Homo sapiens: one gene and its partner. The protein of the gene in region 1 interacts with the protein of each later gene in a pairwise test. Each region holds a gene or a part of one and is shown in the gene's direction. Other genes may lie near its edges.

Region 1 (3,820 bases):
TGGTAGGTAGGGGAGGTAGAGACATTTTGGAGGGTGTGTGTGTGTGTGTGTGTGTGTGTGTGAACTTTTTAATTACAAAAAGTTTCAAACATACAAAAGTAAAATAGTATAATGAACCTACGTACACCATCCCCCAGCTTCAGTAAATATCAACACGTGCTCATTCTTATTTTATCTGTACCCCGTCTCCTCCCTCCCATTCCCTCTGGAATTATTTTGGAAGACATCCAGACATCATCCCATCCATAAATACTTCTGTTTGTATCTCAGAAAATTAAGAACTCTTTTTTGTTTTTTTTTTTGAGACAGAGTCTCACTCTGTCACCTAGGCTGGAGTGCAGTGGTGTGATCTCAGCTTACTGCAACCTCTGCCTCCTGGGTTCAAGCAAGTACATCCAGCTAATTTTTGTATTTTTAGTAGAGACGGGATCCGTTGCCTTGGCCTCCCAAAGTGCTGGGATTACAGGTGTGAGCCATCACGTCTGGCCAGAAAATTAAGAATTCTTAACCCCACAATACTATCATCACACCTTAGAAAATAAACGGTAATTCCTCAGTATCATCAAGTATTTGGTCAGTGTTCAAGTTTTCTTCTCTCATAAGTGTTTAGGATCCAAACAAAGTTGACATGTTGCATTTGATTGATGTGTCTCTTTAGATTTTTAAAATCTCCCCCACTTTGTTTCTTTGCAATTTGTTGGTTGAAGAAACTTTGCTTGTCCTGTAGAATTTTCCAGTCTGGGTCTGGCTGATTACATCCAGGTGGAAATACATTTCTTACTCCATTTTTATTAATTTATTAATTATATTAATTAATGTAATCTTATTAAATTTATTTAATTTATCAAATTGTATTAAACGAATGTATTTAATCTTTTATTATTAAATTAACTAGAATTAACTCTATTTAATTCTATTATTCCCACTTCCTTTATTAGCTAGAATTCTTCTCTAAAGAAAAACTGTCCCACACCAGCTATTTGGCTACTTTGAGATATAGTTTGTGCAGAAAAAGCAGTGTAAATATTTAATTTTTTCCATTTTATTTACCAGTTTTCAGAGAAGTACTACTACAAAGGTGACCAATAAAAGGATTTTTGGTTTTGTGTCATTATGAACTCATGAATTCTAAACATATTTGAATGAGTTTCAATCCATTGCACTTATTTGTTTGCTTTTTTTGATGCTTAAATTGAACTATCCCTGGCTAGTAGGAGCTTATTGAGATGGGCTACTCTGTCCTTTTGACACGCCCTCATCATTCTGTGAGCCTTTCTCACATCTTCCATGACAATATGTGCTAGGTTCATCCTGTACTCTCCCTGCCCCAAGCCTGGAAACAGCCATTTCTTTCTTGCTTTTCTTTTCTTTATTTTCTTTTTCTTTTTCTTTCTTTTCTTTCCTTTCCTTTCTTTCCTTACCTTTCCTTTCTTTCTTTCCTTTCCTTTGTCTCTCTCTTTCTTTCTTTTCTTTTACTTTATTTTTCTTTCCTTTCTTTCCTCTCTCTCTCTCTTTCTTTCTTTTTTCTTTTTCTTTCTTTTTTTTTTTTTTTTTTTTGAGTCAGAGTCTTTCTCTGTCGCCCAGGCTGGAGTGCAGTGGCACAATCTCGGTTCACTGCAACCTCTGCCTTCTGGGTTCAAGCAATTCTCCTGTCTCAGCCTCTTGAGTAGCTGGGATTACAGGCACATGCCACCACACCCGGCTGATTTTTGTATTTTTGCAGAGATGGGGTTTCACCATGTTGGCCAGGCTGGTCTTGAACTCCTGACCTGCCTGGTGATCCACCTGCCTTGGCCTCCCAAAGTGCTGGGATTACAGGCGTGAGCCACTGAGCCTGGCCAGAAACAGCTATTTCTTTAAGGAGCACTGATTCCTTTCAGTGGAGAGTGGCATTCAAAGGCCAAGATTTGGGGGCTCGGCATGCTTGCTGCTACTAGATTGGTCATTGTTTCTAGGCCCTTTCAAAAGATGGAGCTAGGAAATAATTGTTTTTTAAAGAGAAGATGATACATCATGGGTTCATATGGACATCCTGGCTATGTTTTGGGATTTTTTTGCATTTTATTTTTTTTAAAATTTTTTTAATTTTTAATTTTTGAGGGGACATAGTAAGTGTATATATTTATGGAGATGTTTTGATATAGGCATGCATTGTGTAATAATCACATCATGGAGAATGAGGTATGCATCTCCTCAAGCATTTATCCTGTGTGTTACAAACAATCCACTTACACTCTTTATTTTTTTTTTTTTGAGACAAAGTCTCTGTCGCCCAGGCTGCAGTGCAGTGGCACAGTCTCGGCTCACTGCAATCTCTGCCCTCTGGGTTCAAGTGATTCTCCTGCCTCAGCCTCTTGAGATTACAGGCGCACAACACCACGCCCAGCTAATTTTTGTATTTTTGGTAGAGACGGGGTTTCACCATGTTGGCCAGGCTGGTCTCGAACTCCTAGTTTCATGTGATCCGCCCGCCTTGGCTTCCTAAAGTGCTTGGATTACAGGTGAGAGCCACTGTGCCTGGCTACTTACACTTTTAGTTATTTTAACTGGCTCTGTTTTGAAGGTAAGCCAGCAGTATTTAGTGATGATCATTCACCAAATATTCACACCCACCGAATTCCTCAGCTTTATAATCTGCAAGAAGCCCTGTTTTACTGCATCCAATTGTGTTATTTTACCATAGATGACAGTCTTTGGAGTCTAGACAGTGACAGAGGGCGCTTTAAGGCATTTTTATATAGAAACCCCTGTGGGGCTGGCTGTGGGCTGTCACACTTCTTACTGTCTCTGCTTGTTCCATCCCCTCCTCTGCTTCATTCCCTTGCTTTTTCTCTGCCCCCTTGCCCCGGCCATGGCTCCAGGTTTCTGACGTTCCGATGACTGGCAACCCCGCAGAAGAAGGTGATGTCCCCAGAAGCAGTCCACCTGTGGCTTTTACAGAGGTCCTCCAGGCACCGGCCATCAGGATTCCCCCCTCCTCCCCTCTCTGTGGCCTGGGTGGCTCCCCCAGAGACCAGGCCTCAGGGCCCGATGCGAGCGAGGGGGCCACCGGGCCTTTCCTGGAGCCCAGTCAGCAGCAGGCAGAGGCCACATGGGGAGTATCGAGTGAGAATGGAGGGGGGCTGGAGGCTGTGAGTGGGTCAGAGGAGCTGCTCGGTGAGGACACCATCGACCAGGAGCTGGAGCAGCTCTACCTGTCTCACCTGAGCCGCCTACGGGCTGCTGTGGCTGCGGGTGGGGCAGGGGGTGGTGGGGAGGGCTCCACAGATGGAGGGATGTCCCCCAGCCATCCCCTGGGCATACTGACGGACCGCGACCTGATCTTGAAGTGGCCTGGCCCTGAGCGGGCCCTGAACAGCGCCCTGGCTGAGGAGATCACGCTGCACTATGCCCGGCTGGGGCGTGGCGTGGAGCTCATCAAGGACACCGAAGACCCTGATGATGAAGGGGAGGGTGAAGAGGGGCTCTCTGTCACACCCTCCAGCCCAGAAGGGGACAGCCCCAAGGAATCGCCTCCAGAAATCCTCTCCGGGGCCCGTTCTGTGGTAGCCACGATGGGAGATGTGTGGCTCCCATGGGCAGAGGGCTCAGGATGTGACGGCCCTGTGGTTCTGGGTACAGAGGGTCAGTTCATTGGGGATCCTGAGAAAGGGATGGGCAAGGACACCAGCTCTTTGCACATGAATAGGGTGATAGCTGGGGTGACTGAGTCCCTGGGGGAGGCCGGGACAGAAGCCCAGATAGAGGTCACCAGTGAGTGGGCAGGCAGCTTGGATCCCATATCTGGCAAGGAGCCAGCCTCTCCCGTCCTTCTGCAGGG
Region 2 (4,604 bases), on another chromosome or scaffold:
TTATTTCATACAAGTCTTTTCACTGGATATAAAATGGTGCTGCTATTTTCAATCTGACATTACTTGTTTTGCAGATCCCTACCTGCCTTCATAAGCACAGATGTCAAAGTGTAACTCACAACTAAGCAGTATTTAAAAATAATTTCTTTTCCTCTTTTTTTTTTAATCTTGGAGACAAGATCTCATTCTGTCACCCCAAGCTGGAGCGCAGTGGTGTGATCTCAGCTCACTGCAGCCTCGACCTCCCCCAGGTTCATGCAATCCTCCTGCCTCAGGTCTCCCCTGACCCCTAACCCTCAACCCCTCCGCCGCCGCCCAGTAGCTGGGACTACGGGTGTGAACCACCACCCTTGGCTAATTTATGTGGTTTTTTTTGTAGAGATGGGGTTTTGCCATGTTGCCCAAGCTGGTCTCTTCTAGACTCAAGCAATCCACCTGTCTTGGTCTACCAAAGTGCTGGAATTACAGGAATGAGCCACCGCACCTTGCCTTAAAATATTTTCATATTCCTGAATAGAAATTCTGGTACATTAAAAAACATCTGATTTCTCTTGAATATTATTTCATCTAGAATTCTTCACAAGTATTTTTTCTAATATAGTAAATTTTGAGTTTTTAAAAAAGCAGCAAATACTGAATAAAATCTGAAGTGCTCAGCAGAGCTAAAATGAACTAAGTATTTTCCAATAACATTCAACATGAGCAAAGGAATACAAATTTGAAACAAGAAAAGGGCACAAATGTCATCACTGATTTATAAGTAATTAATTTTAAAATATGCATCTATAATGATCTTTTAAAAGGAAACCTTGAGAATGCTGAGGTTCTAATACTAAGCTAGTCTTATGGTTACAGAAAACTTAAATAGCATAACTATTAAGATTTAAACACCAATTTTCTGAAATAAGGCAAAAACGTATTTTCATTACTTGTATTTTCTCCAACGTAAAGTCTATGGGGAAAAAAAGCTGTGAACCACTCCTAAACCCAGAGATCATCTGTTTAAAAATAAGCAGTAAAAAAGTTTCTGCTAAAACCTATGTATACATGTAGAATTCAGGCCTTTCTGTGCTCTTCTATATAAGGTTGCAACCAGAGCAAATTAATGGTGTTCCACAGCAAAGGCACAAAAGCTAGATAAGAATCTTGTTTCACTGCTAGAAATCAGAACTGTAGAAATCACTATAGGCTTTTAAAACGGCAGAATCTTCAAAGAATGAAACCTCTAAAATAGCTAGATTATATCTTATTTTTTCTCAAATGTGAAAAACAGCTCAGGCTTAACCCCAAACAAAACTATCTGAAGCTAAAATGATCAAGTTTATTACAGTCCCCCCAAATATTAAAGAGAGCTCTTAAAAATATAACTTGAATAAGGGCCATGAACTGGTTCAACATGCTTAACAGTGGTTTTATGAATTACAATGAATGCTGCTACTCTCTAAAAATGAATGTATCAAAGAGGAAATAACCTCCTTGGCATGCTTGCAGCTATACAACGTATTTGTTTCACTGCTTTCAACCGCCTGTGCTGGAGGCTCAGAATAAGTCAATGGGAGGAGGATTTCAGTCACAGCAGCAAGCAAGTCTAGTGAACAGATAAGATGACATGCTCAGCAAAATAACAACGAAACCAGAGGTAAGCATTTAATAAACACATATGGAATTAATCTAAAGGTTTTTTTTTTTAATCTTCAAGAATTCTGCTATCATAATCTTTCATTTCTATTCAGCGGTTTAAAAATCAAAATGAAAAATTTACTAATGCTAAAGGAGAGTTTTTAAAAACGTGATTTGTACATTTGATGAACAAATAAATGGTCTAATCTTCCTTTTGGTTTCCCTTTCTTCTCAAGGCAACTGGGAAGGTTAAAAAAATAAACACTACTTAAAACAAAAAAAGAACTGGTTTGAATTTGGCAAATTTAGTGATTAAATTTAGAACACAATTGTTGCAAAGACATACCATGAGAGATGAAATTACTAAACACAATTATTTGGATCCTAGTAATACCTTTTTTTTTCCTTCTCTCAAACTAAAGGAAATCTAAAATGACATTTATATCAGTACTCACAAACCTGATAAGACAAAGCTAATTACATATAAGGATCCCTAGCTGGTAAAACATTTATTTAGACCCTTGTTGGGCTTTGAGTGTTTCTAGGTGGGTGGCCAGCGCATACTAAAAGTTCTATTCTGAACTATTGTGTTTCGACTTTTCTATTCTTCTGTAAGTAAAGGTAAAAAGACATTCAAGGGTCAGGAAACACCTAACTTTTTATTATAACCATTGAAAAAATTAATGTGTCTTCTGTTTCATTAACTGAGCAACATCAGAAATACAGTATATTTGGAGAATTGGCTGCATTGTCACAAATGCACAACAGACTTACTAAGAAGGGAAGGGCTATGAAGTTCAAGTGTTTTTACCACTTTCAGAAATGAATAAAATAATGCAGTCTATGTATTTTGTATCTAGGGGGAACTCTCTGGCATGCAAGTTCAAACACGACTCTACAACTACGGCAGAAAAAGAGAGAGAGAGAAACTAAAAATATATATATATCCTATTTTTTTCACAGCTATCAGTTTCTTTCACTGAGCTTTCCTAAATTTAAGCCTCTAGAAAATAATAAATACTTGGATATCTTACCTACAAACATGGACAGATGTGTGTATGCGCTCATTTTAGAGAACTTGAATTTTTTTTTTTAAAGGAAGGTGTCAACTTTGGCTTTTGAGTGTTTGGCATGGTTACAATGCCTTAAAAAAACAGATGAGCAGCTTAGCTACTAACCATGCTGACCACTGTTCGGAACGGGATTGAATCACAGAAAAACAGCAAATGGCTCTCTCTTACAGAGTGTCTGAACTTCAAAGCACAATTCCTGAGCACATTTTGCAGAGCACCTTTGTTCACGTTATCTCTTCTAACTGGTCTGGATTACAGACAGAATCAATACCAGAGGAAATGAAACAGATTGTTGAGGAACAGGGAAATAAACTGCACTGGGCAGCTCTTCTGATACTCATGGTGATAATACCCACAATTGGTGGAAATACCCTTGTTATTCTGGCTGTTTCACTGGAGAAGAAGCTGCAGTATGCTACTAATTACTTTCTAATGTCCTTGGCGGTGGCTGATTTGCTGGTTGGATTGTTTGTGATGCCAATTGCCCTCTTGACAATAATGTTTGGTAAGTATTTCACTTTGTTTGTGCCATCAAACCACAGAACTATGATATACTATTAGAGAATGGACACTCATTTAATCTTTACTTTTCTTGAAATAAAAGATGAACTTGGACTATTTAAAGATACGGCAAGTAAACAGTCCCTTGTTTTATATCATTCTCTATGGTTGATCAGCAGTTTTAAAGAGCAAAAAATATTTTTTGTAAACTATTTTTCTCCCTCCTAAGCTATCTAATAAAATCATTTAAAAAGTCATTCAAGTTAGTGATATTTATAGATTCTGAATATATTATCTATAAATTATAGTAAATAGGCCTATACTTTAACTTTTCTACACTGATACTTTTTTTCCTCAAAGCAATAACTAGGACACTTCCGGGACAGATATGCGCTGGGTTAACGATAAGGTCTTTGAATTACTAAATCCCAATTTAAATCACTAAACCCCAGTTTAAAATTGGAACTGTCCAAAAATTCTTATTATAGCTCTTAATAGTTTGTATATTATAAACTTGAACACAATTCCTACATATGTGTCATGTTAAGAAAAATTATGTTTAGTTGCTGAAGGAAATGGTTTGGCTCAGAGTGTCCAAAGAGATGATCTATCGATTCAATTTTTTTATGATATATGGGCATCTGTGTTCCTGATAGGCCTCTAAGTTGGTAAGTGGATTAAAACCTAGTTATTGCGATAATAAAAGGTATAGTTTGACACTGAAATCTTAGTTTGCTATAATAAAAAAAAGATATAAGTAGTTCCAGATTTCTGCATATCATCTCTAGTTATAAAATTTGGATAAACACAAATAATTCTGCTGATGAATTATGAGGGCTCCTAGACCCTTGGAATCAGCATTAAAAGGATATTTAACTTATTCAATGCTTGGTATAAACTGATATTCCATTCATAAACTGCCTAAGCAAAATGATTACTTGTGGCAGATATAGTTTCTTAGAATTATATTTACTTATATGAAGATAAAAATATTTTAAGTTACAGAAGTAAAATTTATTAAACTAGAATCCATATTAGAAGGTAAAAAACCCCTGCTATTCCAACTATTATACCCAGGTTTTACACATTACAATTTTATAAGTAATAACAGAAAGATATCTAAAACTATTATCAGATAGTAACAGGTTTACACCTTCCATTTTAAATCAACATTTACCTGGGCTTTAAAATAAATCAAGAAAATTATGTGGCAGGACAAGCAGTAATGAGTAAAGTTCTACTGCTTTAATTAGACTTTCTAATAATTAACAGTCTTTCTATCTCCCTGTTTTATAAATTTGTAATCTTTTAAATAATCTAATGCTGCATGAAACCATGAAAAATAATTAAGAAATCTTACTATAATAGAGAACATAACCCTAATTCTGAATAAAGCTTAAAAGAAAGTAT

The links.
Region 2: the proteins of PPP1R3F (region 1) and HTR2B interact in a two-hybrid assay, tested with the Homo sapiens proteins (one large-scale study listed by BioGRID and IntAct).

Annotation. Positions count from the first base shown.
Region 1 is NC_000023.11:49,282,973-49,286,792, forward strand, and holds part of PPP1R3F (protein phosphatase 1 regulatory subunit 3F), read left to right. Parts: intron 1-2,861; coding exon 2,862-3,820.
Region 2 is NC_000002.12:231,122,007-231,126,610, reverse strand, and holds the start of HTR2B (5-hydroxytryptamine receptor 2B), read left to right. Parts: upstream 1-1,568; 5' UTR 1,569-1,609; coding exon of another isoform or gene 1,610-1,639; exon of another isoform or gene 1,640-2,480; 5' UTR 2,481-2,846; coding exon 2,847-3,198; intron 3,199-4,604. UniProt on the Homo sapiens protein: G-protein coupled receptor for 5-hydroxytryptamine (serotonin). Also functions as a receptor for various ergot alkaloid derivatives and psychoactive substances.